2 separate regions of the Homo sapiens genome follow, and region 2 is linked to region 1. A link means that fine-mapping ties the variant in region 1 to the expression of a gene that starts in the linked region. Tissue or cell type: blood mononuclear cells. Region 1 holds a variant in brackets; the other region holds the start of a gene. All regions are shown on one strand. Distances are from middle to middle.

Region 1 (2,682 bases):
TTATGGGGGTGAGACTGAGGTTCTGTATAAATGGAAAAAAAAATCTGATTTTATGGCCTTCTCTCTCTCACTCTGTTGCCCAGGCTGGAGTGCAGTGACAAGATCTCCACTCACTGCAACCTCCACCTCCAGGGTTCAAGCGATTCTCCTGCCTCAGCCTCCTGAGTAGCTGGGAATACAGGTGTGTGCCACCACACCTGGTTAATTTTTTTTTTTTTGTACTTTTAGCAGAGACAGAGTTTTGCTACATTGACCAGGCTGTTCTCAAACTCCTGACCTCAGATGATCCACCCACCTCGGCCTCCCAAAGCACTAGGATTGCAGGCGTGAGCCACCGCACCCTGCCTGTGACCTCTGTGATGTGATTTTTCTTTTTTTAATGCCAGTATGTCACTTTCAGAATAAAACAAGAACTAGTCAAGGATGCCACCCCCACCACCATGAGCCCAGAGAGATCAACACAGACCCATCAGAAAGGAGGGAGTGGTATGAACATGGAGGGCCACTGGGGTTGAGGAATGGCCTGAGAGTGGGCATGGCCAGTTGGCTTAGGTTCTGAGCAGTTGCTCATTCAACAGGCACACTGAGTGTGGGCTACTGTGTCTGGTCCTAGGGTTAGGATGAGTGGCAAAAATGACATAGTTCCTGTCCTTGGGGAGCTGATAGTCTAGTGGGAGAAACACATATTGAAATAATTGCAAAAGAATATATGTACAGTCCATGGCAAGTGCTAGGAAGACAAATGACACAGTGCTCTGAACATATATAATGTGAGGGGGAACCTCCTTGCTTGTGTGGGAGGTGACCTGGAGCCCATATCTGAAGGCTGCATTAGGAGTTAGTGAGGCACGCAGGAGGGAAGGCACATTTCAGGTGGAAGGGGAGCCTGTGCCTTCGTGGGAAGAAATATGGTACATTAGGAAGGCAGGAATACAGGTCTTCCTGGAGCCCAACATGGTGGGAGAATAATGGGAGGAAAGTGTTCTATTCCTTCTCTTAGGGGAGACAGGTGGACAGGTGTCTGTGGTCAGGGGATGGGATGTGGCTCTCCAATATGCTAGAGCCCTGGACAGTTAGGGGTATAAGGTTGATAAACATGAGGTAGGCCTCAG[G/A]CAGACCTGACTTGAATTCAGCAGGTGTGTCCCTCGGCCAGCTACTGGACTTGCCTGAGCCACAGCATCCCTGTCTGTGGAATGGGGTCAAGGCTGCCTCATAAGGCTGTGGTGGAGAGATCTGTGGAGCCCCGTACACTTTTCATCAATGGCTGATGGATTGGCCTGTTAATACTGTAAGAGTGTGATGAGGACGCTCAGGGTCACTGGAACGCCTCATAATCTTTTAAAAATCTCAGGCTGGGGGAGAGCAAGGAACCCATGGAGATCTTCTGTTCCAGAAAGGTCCAGGCCAGGAAGGGCTTAGGAAGAGAAGCAGATGGAGAAAAAAATCTAAGGAAACAGACCCAGGAGTTGACATAAACTGTTTGGAGAGGTTGTTCCAGCAGACTCTTGCACCGGCAGCCCCTTTTCATGAGATAAGAAAGCCTAGGAGGGTTGGGGGCAGGAGGGCACCCATGAAAGACAGGGTGTCTGGATGTTCTACTGGGGATTAGAAAAACAAAACATAAAATTTCCATATACTCTGCTAAAAAGTCCATTTTAGAAGACTACATGGTTACAGGGAGAAATACGCATGTTATATTAAGTAAAAAAACACTGTGGATACTATGATTTTGTAAAGTAAGTATAAATATATATGTATGTGTGTAGAAAATGCCTTGAAAAATATTCATACTCAAAATGTAGCTGTGTCCTAGCGGGGCATGGTGGTGTGTGCCTGTGGTCCCAGCTACTTGGGAGGCTGTGGCATGAGAATTGCTTGAACCTAGGAGGAGAAGGTTGCAGACTGTCTCAAAAAAAGATGTAGCTGTGTCCAAGTCATGTTACTAATGATTGTGCATATATATGGTTCTTGTGACAAGTACACATTAGCTTAGTGACGAAGCTGTCACATGATTTTTGAGGTCAAAAGTTTCCAGGCCAGGTGCGGTGGTTCATGCCTATAATCCCAGCACTTTGGGAGGCCGAGGCAGGTGGATCACTTGAGGTCAGAAGTTTGAAACCAGCCTGGCCAACATGACGAAACCCAATCGCTATTAAAAATACAAAAATTAGCCAGGTGTGGTGGGGTGTGCCTGTGGTCTGAGTTACTTCGGAGGCTGAGGCGGGAGAATCGCTTGAAACCAGGAAGCAGAGGTTGCAGTGACCCGAGATATTGCATCACTGCACTCCAGCCTGGGTGACAGATCGAGACTCCCTCTCAAAAAAAAAAAAAAAAAAAAAGAGATAGTTGCTAGAGAGCTGGGGTTCCAGGGGTGTGTGGGCAAGGGTGGGGAAAATGTTGGGGGTGGTGAAGGCCCTCCCCCACTCACACCCACCCCACTGCCTCCCCAGGAATGTAACAACCCCTGCTGCAATGCCTCTAATTGTACCCTGAGGCCGGGGGCGGAGTGTGCTCACGGCTCCTGCTGCCACCAGTGTAAGGTAAGTGGCCCTTTTCTCCACGCCTTGGGCCCTGGCCTGACAGTGGGACCACAGGACTGCTCTGCTGGGGTGGATGGCTGGGGATTTGCCTCCATCCTGGGGCTGTGATGGCAACAGAGTTTCAGAAACACAGAGCGGAAAA
Region 2 (2,682 bases), 75 kb before region 1:
TAGGGTTTGATAGACCTACCTACCCATCATCTTCAGGAGTGCCTCGCCCTCTCCAACACTTAGCACTTCTCTAGTCAACCTGGGTTTGACTAAAGAGGCTCAGAAAAAGGAACAGATGGACGAGGTTTGAGGCTGGGATTCTACAACGAGGCTTTGCTAAAACTTGCTGAGGGATCTTAGGCAAGTCATTTCTCTCTCATTATCAGTTTCTCCACCTGGAAAATAAGGTGTGTTGCATCAGGCTCTGGAGTTATACGGATGTGGGTTTGAATCTAGGCACTGACATTAGCTGTGTAATCTTGGGCAAGTGGTTTAGCCTCTCAGGTTTGATTTCCTCATTTCTAAAACAGGGATAGTACTAGTACCTACCCCATGGGATTACTGGGCTAATGAAAAGAGATAATGTATGCAGAGTCCCTGGCTCATAAAAGTTATTTTCTCCGATTAATTAAATAAGTGAATATGTGTAAAGTGCTGAAGACAGCGTTTGACACTTAGCGTTTTATCAGTCTTAGCTATCATGATTTTCTTATTCTAGTACATAGAAAGTCCTCAATAAGTAACAGTAGTTATTATTATTTTTGGTCACATGTCCCTGTGTTTCCCTCCAAAACCCTAACCATCCCCAATTCTGGTTTTCTCCCCGCATGCAGCCCAAGGGTTTTCACGTCCCAGTGCGATTGTCTGGGCTGTTTCCTCCGCCTGATGTTCCATTTCTCCTCCTCCCGATCTCAGATGGCTTCTCCTCTGGGATTCCTCTGGTCTTCATCACTCCCTCCTCCCAGGCAGAAGGAATGGCTCCTGGATTTGTGTCCTGCTTAAAAAAAAAAAAAAAAAAAAAAAAAAAAAAAAAAAAAGAAGTCCATATAGCACTTAGTTCTTTGTGCCTGGCGGTTGGGTTAACTCTTTCTGAGCCTGTCTCCGAGAGTGGCGGCCCCCGGGGGACGGCGCTGGGTGAATCACCTCTGAGTGTCACCCAAGGCGTCTGGCACAGTGCGGGACAGTAAACGGGCCGCTGTGCGGAGAGGGGTCCAGTTTAACTCCTAGAAGCCCGAGTCCCCGACCCTCTACAGGCCGCGTCCACCACAAATCCCTCCTCCTGGGGGGCTCGGATTCTCCCTTCCCCGCGGTCTCCCTCACCTGAGCCAGCCCCGCTCCCCCGAGTCTCGCCAGCTCCTCCCCGGCCCCTCCCTCCAGCCCCCTCCGGGCTGGAGCCTCCCCTCCTCCATCCCCTGGCGGAGGCCCGCGGGGCTGGAGGCGGAGCGTCTCGGCAGAGGGCTGGGAGCCGGGTGGGGAGGCGCGGGGCGAGCCGGGGGGTTCCAGACGCGCCTCCACCGCCGGGCAGTGGGCAGGTATGGCTGAGGGCGTGTGAGCGCCGAGCGCTAAGGGCCGCCGCCACCATGCCAGGGGGCGCAGGCGCCGCCCGGCTCTGCTTGCTGGCGTTTGCCCTGCAGCCCCTCCGGCCGCGGGCGGCGCGGGAGCCTGGATGGACAAGTAAGTGGCCAGGCGCGGGGGGATGGAGGCTGGGTGGCCCGGAGACCTGGGAGTAGCCTTGCGGGTCCGGAGCGCTGGGACCGCGACCCCTGCGCCTCCCGCAACTCCGCGGGGCCTGCGCCCCCGCCGTCCCCAGCCTGGGAGCCCGGGCTTTGTTCCCACGTTCTGCGCCCTGGGAGGTGGCAGAGGTCGGGGAAACCCGGCGCAGCCAGAAAACAGCCGGTCCGCTCACTGGCTAGCCTTCCCTTCTCGCCTTCTCCTTCCTCTGTTTTTCTGCTTTTGGCTTCTCTTTCCGCCGTTCTCGGGGCTTATCCTCCTCCGTTTTCTCACGGTCCCTCGTGTCCGCTCCGCCTCTCTCTCTGTCTTTCTCTCTACCGCCCGCTGCACTCGCCAACGCCGAGCATCCCGAGCGCCCTGCCCGTGTGGCCTGGGAGCGGCTTCCTGGGACCAGGCTCGGTGCCTGCCACACTGGTGGGGTAGGACATAAAATGCCCGCGGCAGACTGTGGTAGCCTTGGCTAGGGGATGGCTCGCTGGGTATCTGCAGCCACACACTTCGGATCCCCGAGCTGGCAGGAGCCCTACTGAAGGCCAAGTCAAACGCACCCATTTCACAGATGGGGAAACCGAGGCCCACAAAAGGGAAAGGACTTGCCCAAGGCCACGCCACGGGTTGAGGTCCGCGGTGGCACTGGAAACCAGGGCTCTCTTTCCACGCCAACCCGACGGCCGCCTTCTTTGGTCCTCAGTTTCCCCTTCTGTGAAGCGAAGGGGTCTGACTCGATGTTTCCAGCTAAGATGCCGGGTGATGTCCGTGTTTCTCAGGACTAGTTTCCCAGACACCAATCCCCTCCCCGGCTCCATCCCTCGGGGGCTATAAGCAGATTTCGCGGAAGGCTTGGTCCCGGGGGGCGGTGCCCGGGTTCTCTCATTATGACCGGAGAAGGCTTAGCCCTGGCTCCACCGCTGCAGACGGGCTGGGCTGACTCCAGACTGCTGCTTGGGGGACCAACAGTCAGCGTTTTCAAATAGAGCGAGCACCGGCGGAGCGAGGGTGGGCTGGCTGGACCCCCGGGCCGCCTCAAACCCAGAGGCTGAGAGCTCTTCCGACAGTTCGGAACTTCCAGGGGCCGAGGTCGGGCGGTCCTCCCAAAGGGCTCAAAGGAACCGCCCTTTGAGCTGTTGTTCC

Evidence for each region. PIP is the estimated chance that this variant, and not a neighbour inherited with it, causes the effect.
Region 2: it holds the start of ADAM19, and the variant in region 1 is fine-mapped to the expression of ADAM19 in blood mononuclear cells (TOPMed, PIP 0.96).

Annotation. Positions count from the first base shown.
Region 1 is chr5:157,499,431-157,502,112 of GRCh38, reverse strand. It overlaps ADAM19 (ADAM metallopeptidase domain 19), which reads left to right. Exons shown (of 23, transcript NM_033274.5): 13 at 2,451-2,540. Among named protein-coding and RNA genes, the nearest start is that of NIPAL4, 41 kb to the right of the region's middle. RefSeq lists enhancers at 1,943-2,002, 2,063-2,112. The variant G/A (reference allele first, on the strand shown) is at 1,113.
Region 2 is chr5:157,574,415-157,577,096 of GRCh38, reverse strand. It overlaps ADAM19 (ADAM metallopeptidase domain 19), which reads left to right and starts at 1,322. Exons shown (of 23, transcript NM_033274.5): 1 at 1,322-1,494. The coding sequence starts at 1,401. It overlaps LOC124901121 (a long non-coding RNA gene), which reads right to left and starts at 2,118. Exons shown (of 2, transcript XR_007059018.1): 1 at 1,727-2,118; 2 at 487-817. RefSeq lists a silencer at 1,171-1,610 and enhancers at 1,781-1,860, 2,097-2,626.